Linked DNA regions of Homo sapiens: region 2 is linked to region 1. Evidence: fine-mapped expression QTL. Tissue or cell type: whole blood. Region 1 holds a variant in brackets; the other region holds the start of a gene. All regions are shown on one strand. Distances are between the middles of the regions.

Region 1 (8,179 bases):
TGCTGGGATTACAGACCTGTTGGTCCCCAGGAGCTGAGTTCCTGGATGTTGGGAGGGCCTTTGCCACCCGAGCAGGCTGGAAGTGTCTCTGGAGCTGCGATGGCCGTGCCCTGATCTTGAAGGCTGGCCTTCTTTCAGAAGCGTATTGGCCGCCTGTAGAACCTTGGCTGTGAGAGACCTTCCGCTCAGCGTTTGGCCTGCTTTTCTCTTGGATTGTTTTCTTATTCATTCAGAAAGGTCCTCACCTCCTGGATGCTGACCCTTTTCCCATTATTTGTGTTGCAGATGCCGTTGTTCAGTTTCTGGTTTATTTCCTCACACTGATGGGCAGAATCCCGTGTTTTGATGTCCTTCAGTGTGTCTGTATTTTTTTTAAGATGTGAACCTTTAAAGAAAACCCTCCATGGCTGGGCGTGGTGGCTCACGCCTGTAATCCCAGCACTTTGGGAGGCTGAGGCAGGTGGATCACGAGGTCAGGAGTTCAAGACCAGCCTGGCCAAGATGGTGAAACGCTGTCTTTACTAAAAATACAAAAAATTAGTTGGGCATGGTGGTATGCACCTGTAATCCCAGCTACTCTGGAGCTGAGGCAGAGAATTGCTTAAACCTGGGGGGCGGAGGTTGCAGTGAGCCGAGATCGTGCCACTGCACTCTAGCCTGGGCGTCAGAGCAAGACTCCACCTCAAAAAAAAAAAAAAGAAAAAGGAAAACCCTCCTATCCGAAAGTCAGAAACACGTTTTCCTTTTATTTTTTTTTCCAAAAATGTTAAAAGTTTCTCTTAATTTAAGTCCATAATCTACCTAGAAGTATGTGTGTGGTGTGAGGTAGGGATCTTCTTTGTACCCAAATTCTAAAACTTGAGAATGGTCTTTTGTGAGTTTATTTTTATTCTTAGTGATTCCTTTCACACTGAAAGCATATTCCTCCTAGCTCTCCAGCTGTTTGTATACCTTAGGATGTTAGTGTGTGCTGCCTTGGGGTCTGTCCAATAACTTTTTCTTTTTTTTTTCCTAATAGAAATAGGCTCTTTCTCTGTCACCCAGGCTAGAGTGCAGTGATGGCGCCACTGTCCATGCAAGATCTGCCCCCAGCACACACACTTGCCCACCTCCATATTATAGACAAGACCTTCATTGTTTTAACTTGTATTCCTCTTTTTTTTTTTTTTTTTGAGATGGAATCTCGCTCTGTCACCCAGGCTGGAGTGCAGTGGCACGATCTCAGCTCACTGCAAGCTCCGCCTACCGGGTTCACGCCATTCTCCTGCCTCAGCCTCCTGAGTAGCTGGGACTACAGGTGCCCGCCACCGTGCCCGGCTAATTTTTTGTATTTTTAGTAGAGACAGGGTTTCACCGTGTTAGCCAGGATGGTCTTGATCTCCTGACCTCGTGATCCGCCCGTCTCGGCCTCCCAAAGTGCTGGGATTACAGGCTTGAGCTACTGCGCCTGGCCACTTGCATTCCTTTTGGTTATTAGCAATGTTGAATACTTTTCTGTTGGCCATTGCATTTCTTCTTTTACATACTGTCTATGCGTGTCATCTATTTGTTTTCCTTCTTTTTATGGAGACAGGGTCTTGATCTGTCACCCAGGCTGGAGTGCAGTGGTACAATCACAGCTTACTGCAGCCTTGACCTCCTGGGCTCAAGTCATCCTCATGGGTAGTTATGACTACAGGCATGCACGACCATGCCCAGCTATTTTTTTTGTTGTTGTTGAGATGGGGTCTCGTTTTTTTGCTCAGGCTAGTCTTGAACTCCTGGCTTCAAGCGCTCCCCCCACCTCTGCCTTCTAGAGTGCTGGGATTGTAGGCGAGAGCCATTGTGCCTGGCACATGTGTTTTTCAATTGCAATATTAATCCTAGAGCTTCCTTAATAGCTTCTTGGATATTAGGCACATCTTCCTTTGTTGAATGTTGTAAACTGTTTTTGCTCTCTAATTTTGTGTGGCATTTTCTGACATACAGAAGTTAGGATATACAGAAGACAGTCCTTCCTCAGGTTGGGCATGGTGGCTCATGCCTGTAATTGTAGCACTTTGGGAGGTTGAGGCAAGAGGATCACTTGAGCTCAGGAGTTCGAGACCAGCCTGGGTAACATAGCAGGACCTCCTCTCTACTAAAAAAGCAAACAAACAAAAAAACAAAATCAGCCAGGAGTGGTGGCACACGTACCTGTAGTCCCTGCTACTCAGGGGACTGAGGTGGGAGGATCATTGAGTCTGGGAGTTCAAGGCTGCAGTGAGCCATGATCACTCCACTGCACTCCAGCCTGGGCAACAAAGCAAGTCGCTGTCTCAAAAAAAAATTAAATTCAAAAAGGAAAGTCCTTCCTCAGATAAATAATCATCTGTGTGGTTTTTCATATTTAACTCTTTATCTTTTTGTTCAACTCTTTCATCCTTCCAGAATTTATTTTGCTGTTTATTGAGAGGAAATGGGAAATTAAGTTCCCCGCCCTGTGTGTGAAACAGCTGTTTCGCACCTTATAGTTTGTTCTTTCTGAGTCTTTTTCTGGGATTTTTATTTTTATTTTTTGAGACGGAGTCTCACTCTGCTGCCCAGGCTGGAGTGCAGTGGCGCAATCTCGGCTCACTGCCAGCTCCGCCTCCCTGGTTCATGCTATTCTCCTGCCTCAGCCTTCCGAGTAGCTGGGATTATAGGCGCCTGCCACCACGCCCAGCTAATTTTTTATATTTTTAGTAGAGACAGGGTTTTACCGTATTAGCCAGGATGGTCTCGATCTCCTGACCTCATGATCCGCCTGCTTCGGCCTCCCAAAGTGTTGGAATTACAGGCATGAGCCACCGTGCCTGGCTTTTTCTGAGATTTTAAAGTGGTTTTTGGAGACTTTTAATCAGAACACCAGAGGATTGTTTTAAGGCCTGGGGATTGTCCAATCATGAACAGAGCCAAGTTGGGTTCACTCTGAGCTCTGTGCTCAGCCATGGGCTACTGGGCCGTGAATGGCTGTGAATTCTGTAGTGAGCACTGTCCCTGGAGCCTGTAGACCTGGGGCCACTTATGCTGAAGTGCGTCCATGTGTGTCAGGTCAGCATGGAGCCATCGATCCTGGCAGAGGGGCTGGCAGAACGCGTGCTCCTTCACAGTGGGTGGAACAGAGAGCTTTTTGCTAAAAGCCACCTGTTTTGGGGAAACAGTTTTGTAAAGCTGTTAAAACCCAAGTTTTCATTTTGAAGAAGTGCTGTGTTGCATTTTTAATGTGCTGGTTTTTTGAAGAAGGAATTTTCTGAAGGCTGAGCATTACGTTTTTCCAGTTTGTTGTTAACTTTGCAACAGTGTCTGTGTGTGTCCTTTCTGCATCTGCTGACCTTCTCGGGGTGGGATTGGAAGTGGAGTTGTTGGGGAAGATGATTTTTGAGCCCTGGCGGCTGCCAGACAGCTGCCGAGAGTGGGGGTGCCATGAGCACGCACAGGCACACTGCCCACCTGCCAGAATTGAGTGCATGACTCTCTGTGATCAGATCTGATTTGATGGGTGCATCCGATGGAGTTGGGTGGGTTTCAGCCTGAGAGTGCACACTTAGCAGTGAGCTCTGTGTGGCCTTTGTATTGGAGACGCACCCTCTTCATTAGGAAGCTGCCGAAGAGGAAAGTCACGCCTGTGCCTGTGGGCTGAGTGGGGGCGTGGGCACTCAGGCTGGCTCTGTTTTCCCTGCAGCATTTGAAGACATGCTGGAGAACCCACTGAACAGCACCCAGTGGATGAATGATCCAGAAACGGGGCCTGTCATGCTGCAGATCTCTAGAATCTTCCAGACACTAAATCGCACGTAGGTGGCGTTGTTCCACTCGGCTATCAGGCCACAGCAGCCCCCTGGTGCGGCCCGAGACCGGGCAGAGTGGACCTCACCTGGAAACTCACCTTCAGCGCCTCAGCCCTGGACTGTTAGAGGTGCTGCAGCTGCTCCTGCTCTCTGATCTTATTGCTTATAAACTTTGGTGACGGTAGTGTGTAAGGCCGTATTTTTAGCATCTGACAGGTGTTTACAAAAAAGTGGTTGTCGCACTGGGAAGTGGAGTGATGGCCTCGTCTCCAGTGCTCCTCTGGGCTCTTGAGTTGCTGCTTGAATTGCCGTGTAGACATTTGCTTGGAGAGTCCACTTGTTATTTGACGGAGGTA[G/A]GTTTCAACCCAGAGTTAATGTCAAGCATGCTAATTTAACTAGTCACTCACAGATGACTTTTCTTTAATAAAGTCCCTTTTCCTATTTCCTGTCTTCGTCTTTTCTTGGTGCCGCACAAGAAACCCGTGCGTCCCCGAGAGGCCACATCCCCGCGGCTCCGTGCCGGCTGCTCTGACCCGGGGCGGGCACCGGGGCCACCGCAGCATGTGGGAGGCCTTGTGGCCATGTTTGGTTGGCAAAGCCTCGTGTTGTATTGGGTTTAAGGGACTGGAGCTGAGCCCGTATTCCTGGGACACAGGTCCTGAGCCCAAGCACGGCTGCCTCCGCCTACCTCTGGCCTCTTCCTCCTTTTTTTTCATTTTAAAAAACATGACCGGTGTCTTAAAATGAGAAAATGAATTTATTTTGTTTTTTGTGAACTCTGCTCATTATTGTTGCTGGAAGCAGTCAGTTCCGAGCTGTTTGTTTTGAACTTCTCTTCTGAACCAGCCCCCTCCCCTTCTGAACTCTGCTTGCATTGTAGCTGAGTAAGAATGTTTTCGGAAAATGTTTCTCTCCACACATCTAGGTCTTTTCATTGTTTTTGAGATTTAGATTTAAAACTAAAGTTAATTTAAACTCTTTGGGCAGAAATATTAAAAATGCTTTTCAAAAGTAATGAATCTCGGCCGGGCGCGGTGGCTCACACCTGTAATCCCAGCACTTTGGGGGACCGAGGCAGGCGGATCACGAGGTCAGGAGATCAAGATCATCCTGGCTAACACGGTGAAACCCCGTCTCTACTAAAAATACAAAAAATTAGCCGGGTGTGGTGGCGGGTGCCTGTAGTCCCAGCTACTTGGGAGACTGAGGCAGGAGAACGGTGTGAATTCGGGAGGCGGAGCTTGCAGTGAGCCAAGATCGCGCCACTGCACTCCAGCCTGGGCGACAGAGCAAGACTCCGTCTCAAAAAAAAAAAAAAAAGTAGCGAATCTCACTTCTTTTTGAGACGGAGTCTCAAAAAAAAAAAAGATGCCTGTCTACTACCCTGCTGCCAGGCCACAGGCCCTCGGCCCGCCCCACGTCAGCAGGGTCTAGCCAGCCACAGTGCCCTCCTTGCCCGCCATCCTCTTTTGGCAAACTTGTGAGTCGGAAGAGAATGTTCTCCTCAGCGAGTTTAAGAGTCAAAGTTGGGAAATTCCTTCCGAGGAACCTCTGGACAGGTGTGTCCTCAGCCCGCCTCCTGCGGGCTGTGGAGCCGTGCTTTCCACGGGTTCGCTGGCTGCCTGGCTCATCTTGCTGTGGCCTGAGCGTCCACAAGGTGGGCGAGGGGCCACACCAACACCTGCCTGATGTGGCCATGAGGAGGGAAGTGTGTGCCAGTGCCTTTCCTCGGAGATGCTGCGTTCGCTCCCGTTGGCTGGTCCTGCACATGCAGCTTCTCCAGGTGCGCCTCCTCCGCTAGCCCCGTGTTCTGCCGCGCCCGCCTTTCAGTCCCCAGAGGCCCTGAGGTCGGGAATGCGCGTTCTCACCCAGCCCTGTCCTCTGGTGAGCGTGGATCCACGTTTTAACCTGGTCGCGGTTTGCATGCAGTTGTGGAGTTCTGGGTGAGTAAACACCACGTGCCGCCGAGGCCTTCCCAGGGGCTGCGGGCCGTCCGTAGATGGGTTCTGGAGCACGTCGCAGCTGCCCTGGTGAATGTGGTTTCTGCTCCTGCAGCGGCTGCTGGGGAGGTGGGGAGTGCTCTGGGCCTGGTTGCAGTCCTGCCGCTTCTCTGGGCCAGGCCATCAGCGCACACATGGGCGAGGCACCATCCCTGTGAACACAGCCTGTGTCTGGCACGCGTATTTTAGGGCTGAGGTTGTATCTTACAAGGTGAAATGAAATGGCCGGCAAACTCTAGAAATTCTTCGTTTACGTGGACTTCAGTTCCATGACCAGTAACGCTGCTGTCCATGTGTGCCTTCGCCACAGTGGCCCATGAACTAGGGGCAGGCAGCTGGCCGAGCCTGGCCCTGAGCGCAGTTGTGTTCCAGCTGCTGAGGGCCAAGTGGCTTCTCAGCCCATGGGGCCAGGCTGCCTGGCTCTGGGGGGCGTGGGTGCTGGGTCGGGGACGCTGGGTCGTACACAGATGTTCCGGTGCACATTGCTCTGTTGAGATAAGGGCCACCTGTGTCATTTTGAGCTTCTGCTAAGCCGTTTTTCTTCTTCCGGGGTCCTGTGGAGCAGGACCCCTGGGCAGTGCCCTGTGGCCATACTCAGGGCTCTAGACCAGGGTGTGATGCCGAGGCAGGTCACCTGTGTGCCAGGGAAGGTGGAGGGAGTTAGATGGCTCACTTGGCCAGCATTCCCTCCTGCTCCGGTGGCCGAGCTTGGCGATGACACATGCGTTTCCTCGTGGAGTGGGATCATGCTGAGATTCCAGGACAGCGTGGCTCAGCTGCTGGAGGGGTGACTTCCCCTGAGATCGTGGGGTCAGGACATTGCTGTGCCGACTGTAGGCGCCGTCCACACAAGCAGGGGATTCCTCCCCCCAGGTGCAGAGAGAGGTGGCCCAGCCACTTGGGCCACTACAGCGAGCTGGCATGGCGGTGGGACCCCGGGTGAGGAGTCTGAAGGCAGGGGTGGGGCTCACTGTCAGCTGGTGGGGACTGGGGGGCTCCGGGAGGTACTGGATGTGGGAGAGGCTGGGGGTCCACCAGCCTGCATCCTTCTCGAGGTCAGGGCCCTGCTCCGTCCCGTTTCAGGGCTGGCTGGTTGTGGAGGCACTTGGAAAACACTCGCTGGAACAGGCGGGTGGGAGGTGGGGCTGGGACAGGGAGCATGGGAGCCAGAGACCGCAGGAGCCTGAATCCCAGAGGACATTCCTGCTGGGGGTGTGGGGACAGCACCATCGGGGGCCTCAGTGCATCCGGGGAGCAGGTGGGGCCTGCCTGGGTCAGCCTCAGCCCAGCTGTGGGGTTCGCCCCCGTGCCCTTCGCTGCCCTTGGAGGCATGCTTGGTCCCACGGGAAGGCAGGAGGATGAGCTGCCATTTGCAGGGTGTGGGGTGGGCAGAGCATTCATGCGCTGGGCACAGCCTCAGCCAGAGGAAGGGCATTGTTGGCGTTCTGGGCCCAGCACAGGCTGGAGAGAAGGAACCCTCATGTGCAGATGTGGCCGAGCCTCCTAACCATGAGAGCACCGCCCAGAGACAGCATGTGCCCAGGGGTGCCCCCGCCCACCCAGGGGCTCTCTCTCGGGTTAGGGCCGGGAGTCGGGTGTGGCACCTGCAAGCAGCTTTCTGTGCCCAGTGGAGGCTTGGAAGGCACAGCTGCCTCCAGGTGAGGATGCCTGGTGCCTGGCTGGGGACTGACTCCCAGGCAGAGAACACAGCCATGTGGCTCTGGGGGACAAGGGTTTGGATGCTGCAGACTGGGCAGGGCTGGGGGCGGGGGTCTGAGGCAGTTAGTGGCTCTTCGACGTTCTCTCAGAGCTCGCTCTGGTTTCCCGCCTGACGGTCTCCCCTTGAACAGCTGCACTTAAGTGAGGTCCACCCTTGCCCCACTCCCAGGCGGGCTCACTGGCTTGGCACACGAGGGAGTCTGAGGGAGCCCCCTGTGGGGTGGTGCCTGCATTCTGGGCTCCCAAGAGCTGGCTTCCTGCAGGGGAACCTGCCAGTGCACCCCCGGCACTTTCCTGGGATCGAGTCTCCGCCAGGGATGTCTCCTGGCTTGGTCCTCAAGGGTCTGCCAGCCTCATACCCCGCAGGGCACGGTGGGCTCTCCAAGGCCAGGCAGGGCCTTTTTGACGGGTTCAGCCTAAGCCCAGGGCTGGCAGGGCCAGGGCCTGCGGTTGGGCTGCTCATCACCCAGCAGTCGCCGGGGAGCATGGCTGAGTGCCCTGTCCCCAACTGTCACTGCCCACATAACTGGGGGTGGGCCCAGGGCTTTCTTTGGCCAGCAGGTGCCCCACTCTCTTCTCCACATTCCCAAGAGGGGCTCCCTTCACCCACAAGCTGTCCTTAGGGGCTCAGAATGAGTCCCAGCCTGTGTAGGGCCCCAAGTGTGGTCCTCC
Region 2 (8,170 bases), 28 kb before region 1:
GAAGGGTTTTTGCAGATGTAATTAAGTTCAGGATCTCCAGGTAAGATCATCCTAGATTAGGGTGGCCCCAAATCCAATGACAAGTGTCCTCATGGGAGGCACACAAAGGACAGCCATGGGAAGAGGAGAGGCTGCATGAAGATGGAGGCAGAGGCTACAGCCATGTGGCCACAGGCCAAGGAACCCCGGAGTCCCCAGGAGCTGGAGGAGGCAGGAAGGACCCTCCCCTGTGGCTCCAGAGGGAGCGTGGCCCATGAACACCTGGATTTCAGACTTCCGGCCTTCAGAACTGGGCGAAAATACATTTCTATTGTTTTAAGCACCACCCCCCAGCCCCAGTTTGTGGCAATTTGTTATAGGAAACAGCCTCAAACCCATGAGAGGAGGGGAGACAATGAGAACCCATCAATTGACAGCCTCGTGGGTGAAGCGGGGTGGGGGCTGGAGTGGTCTCAGAGTACCACGAACCTCCTATCCTTCCACGGGAGGGCACAGGCGTTCCTCCAGGACTCAGGTCAGCTTTGGCTTGAGTCTTTGCTAGCGTGGCCTCTGTGGACCCTTGCAGGGTCCTTGTGATGGCACTGTCCCCCCGCTGTAAAGCCCGTGGCCAGGAGGAAACAGGGAGACTGGGAAGGTTTGATGCCAGGATGGGGGGTTCAGATGTTTCCTGTCAGAAGCAAGCGGGATGCCCTGAGGCCACAGCTTCAGCCCCCTCCCCAGCCACCCCATCCCTCCTCCTTCCTCCAGCCCCAGCCTCCCCTCTGCCCGCTCTCACGCTCAGCCCAGAAACGCGCCCAGCCTCTCTAATGTAAACATGCTGCTGGGCACCCCGTGGCTGGTGCCCTCCTCTCTCTGTTCCCCCAGCCTTCTTGGAAGGTGGAACAGGTGCATCTGTGGCCTCTTGGTGGCTTTCCCATGGCTCCATCCTTTCCCTGTCACTTTGTCCCCTCCCTCTTTGACTTTGGTCCAGAGGACATCAACAAACATGGCTCAAGCAAAGGCTGAAAAACCTGCTGCGGTGGATCCCAGACACTCCCGTGGGAACTCACTGGGGAACATGAGACCGAGGCTGAGGGCCTAGGGATCCCGACCAGCCCACCTGCCAGCCTGGCTTGGTCAGCAGCACCACCCAGCCAGCCGTGGACTTGTGAGAAGTGATGGAGAGCTGTTGGTTGTTTTACCCGCTGAGTTTTAGGACGGTTTTGTTATGCAGCATCACTGTGGCTGCAGATACCAGATCTGCAGCCAGGCAGGCTTGGGCCCCAGTCCCCTTCCGGTCCCTGGAGACGCTCCCTGAGATGACGTGATATTTCTGGTTCTTCTCTTACAGGCCCCATTTTCTCCTCAATATCTTCTCCGCCTTGTGTTTCATGGAGCCACACTCTTGGAACTTTCCTAGTACCATACTCCTCTGTTTTCTTCATGAGCTCCTCTGCATGGGAAGGGGGGTGGGCATCCTCTTAGTTCCAGCTGCCGCTGGTGTGCTCATGACTGGTTTGACTTTTTTGTTTTGTTTTGTTTTTTTGGGACGGGGTCTTGCTGTGTTGCCCAGGCTGGAGTGCAGTGGTGCCATCACGGCGCACTGCAGCCTGGACCTCCTGGGCTCAGGTGATCCTCCCACCTCAGCCTTCTGAGTAGCTGGGACCACAGGTGTGCACCACCACGCCCAGCTCATTAATTTTTTTTATTTTTTGTAGAGGGTCTTGCTACGTGGCCCAGGCCGGCTGCCCAGTGTTTGTCTCCAGCCCAGGCCTCTCTCCTCAACTTCAGTCCTGTAGGTCCAGCTGCCTCCAGGCCACCTCCGTGTGAATGCCCCCAGCACATCCAGGTCCCCGTGTCCAAAACTACCCAACACCTTCCTGGCCAATGGCTCCTCCTCCTGCCTCCTACTTCAAAAGGTGGCACTGCCCTGCACTCTGCCACCCACACTGGAAGTCTTCAAGTCATCCTTGATTTCACTCTTGGGCCCACACCCTCCAATCCTGCTGGCCTCCCCTCCCACAGGCCACTGGAAGCCCCCTTCTCCTCTTCCTCTCCCTCCGCATTGCTCCCCCGCAAGGATGCCCTGCCCTCTTCCCTGTCCCCTCCACAGTCACCACCATTCATTCTGCCACCTGGTCACACCGTTAGTGGCTCTCACAGCAACGTCTTAATGCTCTGACCCGGCTCCTCCAAGCCCTCTAGCTTCCCCCACTCTCCACTCACCACCTTGGTGTTCCTCCCCTTTCTCCTCCACCAGCTTCCACGATACTACCACCACCTCCACTGCGGTCTCTAACAGTCGGTACTTCTGCTTCCTGCGTTAAAAATGCCCCATTCCAGGACTGTATCCTGGTGTCTGGTCTTAATCACTACCATATTTTCATTGAGTAGCAGAGGCTCCCACCTGTGAGAGGCAATTAGTAAGTGCTGAACTGGACACATGGAATCTGGACGAGGTTGGAATTATCACAGGAGAAAAATGAGGATGTGTGTGCAAAATGGTGTGGACAGAATAAAAGCCTGCAGGCAGGAGGCAGAGACAGCCTCCCCGGTTAGATTGCTAACCTCTGAGAACGGGAACTGTGCCTTATTCATCTCTGCGCAGTAAAGTTTTTTTAAATGAATGGGATGAATGAGTACAGATCAGTCAATGTGTCAGGTCTAACCTGAACTACAAAATTCATATTTAGGAGCATGGTAAGTAAGACGTTATCCAGGACTGTTGAGCTAGGTACAGAGACCACTGCCAAGGGGGCTTGCAGTGGGGAGAGAGGTCAGGCTCAACTCCCAATACAGCAAGGGCAAGTGGGTGGGGTCAGTGAATGGAAAATTAATAGGAGAAAACATCAGGGATGTGGGCGGTTCTGGCTAAACCGACCTGACAGGGTTCTTGCTGAAGAGAGGCTGGAGATATCAGACAGCACCTGGGGGACGAGGAACCTGACCAGACGTCCAGGGTGATCTGATATTGAGGCTGGGAGTTCTTGCTAAACTCACTTATCAAGGCTCTTCGCTAAAACTGGATTTTACAAGGAAGTGTACAGATGATGTAGAAGGTTCAGGAGCCTGCTTAAGTTTGGCCAAGCAAAGACTCTTTGTCACACCCCACAGAAAATGAGTCTGCCTGGCATCACCTGCACCAAGGGCGGCTTCCCTCCCCTCTGGGTGCCCCGCAAACCTAGGCTTCGCAGGAACAGTGACTCTCTGATCTGCGTGTGAATTAGAAAGACCTAGGCTTGTTAAAGCCAAGTTCTTTGGAGAGCCTCCGTTCTACAGCAGTGCAGTGCAAAAGAAATATCACAGCAGCCATGTAGGCAATTTAAAATTCTATCTTAAAAAGGTTAAAAGAAACAGGTGAAATTAATTTTAATGACATATTTTTCTTAACTCAATAGATACAAAATATTATTTCAACATGTAATCAATATGAAAACATTATCGAGATGCCTTACATTCCTTTTTCCCGTTACTTCTTTGGGATCCAGCGTGTATTTTACCTTTAGAACCCATGAGGTCCCACGTGGTGAGTGCCCCGGGTGGGAACCGCCTGCAGCTCGGGGAGGAACGAAGCTACCAGAGAACTACAGCTCCCGGCATGCTCCGGGCGCGCCCCGTGACGCACTTCCTTTGCGGTGGCCACAGCGCGCCCCCGGCGGCGGGAGCGAGGCGCCTGTCCGAGAACCACATCTCCCGGCATGCGCCAGACGCGCCCGTGACGCACTTCCGGTGCGGCCGCGACGGCGCGCCCCCGGCGGCTGCTGCGGCGGCGGGAGCGAGGCGACCGCTGAGGCCGCGGAGAGTGACGGCGGCCCGGCCGACGGGAGCCGGGGCGGGGCGGCGGCCCAGCGAAGGAGCGCGCGGGCGGTCTGGCCCCGCCCCCTCCCCGCCCGCCTTCCCGGTGACCTTCAGGGGCCCGGGTGGCGGGCGCAGGCCCCTGCGGCGGCGGCGGGATGTTCGTGCAGGAGGAGAAGATCTTCGCGGGCAAGGTGCTGCGGCTGCACATCTGCGCGTCCGACGGCGCCGAGTGGCTGGAGGAGGCCACCGAGGACACCTCGGTGGAGAAGCTCAAGGAGCGCTGCCTCAAGCACGTAAGGCCGGGCCCCCTCCCCTGCCCCCAACACCCGCTCCGGACCCCTCCGACTGCGGACCCCGCCTCAGTCCCCGAACCGCCCCGACCTGGGGTCCGCCGCCCAGTCCGCAGCTCCCAGGCCCTCTCCTCCGGGGGTGGAGGCAGCGCCTCCTGCCCGTTTGCCCGACTCTCCCCCTTTCGGATCCCACACCTCTGGACGCTCGTCCCGGGCCTGGCCTTTCGGCCGGCGGACTCCGGTCACTAAGCGCTCGCCCCGTGCCAGCCGCCCGGCCGAGCCCTGTACACGCCAGCCTCTCAGTTAACTCTGCAGCCACGCAGGGAGGTAGGGGCAGATCGGGAAACTGAGGCCTGGAGAGTGAAGTCGCCGACGGAGCAGGGCCTCGGGACTTTCCGGCAGTTGTACCTTTTTGCTGTTGGGGTGAGGTTTTTTTTCAGCAGCATCTTTGAGAGCTGAGAATTAACGTAGGCTCCTTCATGAAGAGGCCCCTTCTCCTTCCTCTTCCCCTTTCCCGCAGAGCCGGCTGCTTGGAGCTCTTTTCCTGGCTGGCCCCAGGCCACTGTGCCTTTTAGCTGGAGTCCCTGAAATAGTGCCGCTGCGGGACAAGGCCCTGCGCCCCTGCTTTTCTGCAGAGGTAAAATTGGTCAAGAGAGAAGTCCCAGGAGTAGGGTCTCCTCGCGGAGACACTTTTTAAAGTTTATTCACCTGAAATACTCCTGTGTATTTAGTTCCTTAGGTTGCTGATTTTTGGAACTAGTTCTCGAGTCTCTAAAGGACTCAGTAAGGTCAGCTAAGAAGCCTGTCTGTGTGTCAGACTGACCTCCTGTCTATACCTGACATGATCTGAGGGCTTGGCAGAATTTAGGTTGAAGGAGGCTGCAATTTTCTAGTGGCGACTCCATGTGATAAGTTACGACGTATCTGTGTTGACAGGTTGAGTGCGTTACACTTGAGCTGAGTGTGGTCTCTAAGGATAAACTTCAGTTCTTACCATAGTAGCTGCTCGCATACAGTACTTTCGAGTTGCTTTTGTGAGCATGGTTCTGTGGAGTTCTGGAACTGTCAGAGGCAAGCTTGGCAAGCCCCCTTCTGGAACGCACTGGCTGTGAATAACTGGGAGGTGCTGGCCTCAGGATTCACACCAAGGAGGGGGCTGAGCCTCCTGCGTTCAAGGGCCGGTATGTTTTGGCTGCTTTCTTGCTTTTCTTCTGCCCCAGTCTGCATGATTTTGCCGTCTGAACAACCATCGGGGCATCACTAAGCTCCAGCGCCGGTAACTCCGTGGGCATCCAGGCTGTTTGAGCCAGGTGGTGTTGCTTGTCTAGTTGTGTGTATTTTAAAAAACTTCTCTGGGCCGGGCACGGTAACTCACACTTGTAATCCCAGCACTTTGGGAGGCCGAGGTGGGCGGATTATGAGGTCAGGAGATTGAGGCCATCTTGGCCAACATGGTGAAACCCCGTCTCAACTAAAATACAAAAAATTAGCGGGGCGTGGTGGTGTGTGCCTGTAATCCCAGCTACTTGGGAGGCTGAGGCAGGGTAATCGCTTGAACCCGGGAGGCGGAGGTTGCAGTGAGATGAGATCGCGCCACTGCACTCCAGCCTGGCGACAGAGCAAGACTCCGTCTCAAAAAAAAAAAAAAAAAAAAACCAGACAAAAAACCCTAGAAACTTCTCTGAGGTGCTGCTGTGTCCTCCCTGAGCCAGTACAGAAGCTCCTCAGGGGTTCGGTTTATATCCACAAGTCCAGGGCCGGGCTTAGAGTGGCACCAAAACAAACTTGTGGGTTAATGGAATAGACAAAAATATCCTGTGGACCCCACACTGCATCGACATGGGATGTCCCCTGCGTTGGCACGGCATTTACTTTAACTCACTCGGTGCGATGTGCATGGCCATCATGATACTCTTTTATGAAAGGAAATAGGAAATGAGAGCTGTTTGATCCACAGATACCTACTCATGAATTTCAGGAGCACGGAGGGTCAGTTAGGCAGCCAGTTCCGATGCAATGCTAATTATTATACTCCTGATATATATTATTCCATTTGGTGTTGAGATGTATCATTTGGGATGTTTTGTCATTATTCTACTTTAAATTGAGATTGTATCCCACTCTGCGGTTTCCACAGGTGTGGAGGATCTGAGTAGCAGGGGATTTTCACACCGCAAGAGCCGACATACATTTCAGGACTCCAGAGCTGAGCGTCAGAAAGGTTCCCCACCACCACATCCCAGCGTGGTTCTGCAGGCAGGGCCAGAATGCGTTAGTCAGAAAAGAGAACCCTCGAGTTGTGTATTTGAATGTCTCTCTGGAAGCCGGTCCCTGGATGTCATCCTGCTGTAGGCAGTGAGGTCTGGTGTCTGTTTTAGCTTTGTTCCTCCTCGCCAGGTCCCCAGTGCGTGCTGACGCCGGCATGATTTTTTCCTTCCTCTTTTCCATCTGCCTGGAGGGGAATGATGTCGGCTTCTCCCTGCTGTGCTCCTGGGTGTGCACTCCTGAATCAAGGAGGGGTTTTATGATCAAAACTCTTGCTTTTGCCTTTCCCTTTTCTGTTTTGTGCAAATTGGGATCACCGTGGTGGCCTCTAGCTTCCATTGCCCTGGAGTGGAGAAGGGGGCAGAGGAACCTGTCTTGTACAACAGGTAGTTAATGAGTTTTAGAAAATTATACCTGGCTGAGCACGGTGGCTCATGCCTGTAATCCCAGTACTTTGGGAGGCCAAGACAGGCAGATCACAAGGTCAGGAGATCGAGACCATTCTGGCTAACACAGTGAAACCCCATCTTTACTAAAAATACAGAAAAATTAGCCGGGCGTGGTGGCGGGCACCTGTAGTCCCAGCTACTCGGGAGGCTGAGACAGGAGAATGGTGTGAACCTGGGAGGTGGGACTTGCAGTGAGCCGAGATCAAGCCACTGCACTCCAGCCTGGGCGACGGAGAGAGACTCCGTCTCAAAAAAAAAAAAAAAGAAAATTATACCTGTGGTGCAGTAGAGTTTTTGGTGTGTCGTAAACATTCATGAAATTCCAGCCTGGCCAACATGGCAATACCCCTTCTGTACTAAAAATGTAAAAAAATAGCCTGGCATGGTCGCGGACTCCTGTAATCCCACCTACTCAGGAGGCTGAGGCACAAGAATCGCTTGAACCTGGGAAGCGGAGGTTGCAATAAGCGGAGATCGCGCCACTGCACTCCAGCCTGGGTGACAGAATGAGACCCTGTCTTTAAAAAAAAAAAAAAAAAAAGAAGGAGTTCATAAAATTGCCAGACTAGAAGAGAGTACCCGCTAGTATAGCTGTTAAATTTTCCATTTCCTAGATCGCATGAAGATGGGTCCTCAGATGGCAGGTTGCATCAGGTACAAGCAGAAACGAAGTCACTACTCTTCTGGGGAGGAGCAGGATGGAGTGGGGTGGGGGTGTGAGGGCCTCCCTACTCCAGCGGCCTTGGTTGGGGCTTTTTTGCTGCCATACCCCAGCTTCTGCCGAGAACAAAGAAGCAGAGTGACACGGTCGTCCTAGTGCTTCCGTGTTGTTCCTGGTGTGCTGGTGACACGTGGACTGTGGGTTTTTTGGGAATCAGTATGAGAATTATTTTGGAAAACTGCATTTCGTAGTCTGTATTCTGAACTTGACAAATGAACTAGCCTGCAAACTTTAGGATCATGAGGAAGCACCCCCAGTATTTCAGGGAGCAGAGCCATTGTCAAATCCAGAGGCACTTGAGGGTTCTCTGCCCTGTTGTAAATGGCAGGAGTGTGTCTTCCTAGTAGCTGCGTCCCCCCAACATCCCCTCAGCCTGGCCAGTTTTGTGTGAAGGAGTGAGCCCCTGAAGCCGTCAATCCCTTTTTCAAAACCGTTTTCAGTCTTGAGAGTAACAGAAATTCCAGTTACTCTGAAAATGCCAGTGTTGAGAGGTGAAGTGTGTGCTTAGATTTTCTTTCCCAGCAAGCAGTTGTGTGTGCTGGGTGTTTCAGAGCCTCTGTGGCAGCAAAGGGTGGTGGAAAGTGAGCTGCCAGCAGGGCGTCTGCCCGGCCACCTGAGACGTCCGAGGACGGCCTGTCCTGGGGTGGTGCCCCGGCCCAGCTCCAGGC

Evidence for each region. PIP is the estimated chance that this variant, and not a neighbour inherited with it, causes the effect.
Region 2: it holds the start of UBAC1, and the variant in region 1 is fine-mapped to the expression of UBAC1 in whole blood (TOPMed, PIP above 0.99).

Annotation. Positions count from the first base shown.
Region 1 is chr9:135,929,019-135,937,197 of GRCh38, reverse strand. UBAC1 (UBA domain containing 1) reads left to right here. Exons shown (of 10, transcript NM_016172.3): 10 at 3,683-4,229. The coding sequence ends at 3,798. Among named protein-coding and RNA genes, the nearest start is that of CAMSAP1-DT, 25 kb to the right of the region's middle. RefSeq lists an enhancer at 4,988-5,487. The variant G/A (reference allele first, on the strand shown) is at 4,145.
Region 2 is chr9:135,956,925-135,965,094 of GRCh38, reverse strand. It overlaps UBAC1 (UBA domain containing 1), which reads left to right and starts at 3,722. Exons shown (of 10, transcript NM_016172.3): 1 at 3,722-4,070. The coding sequence starts at 3,933. RefSeq lists silencers at 3,573-3,982, 3,993-4,112 and an enhancer at 3,602-4,102.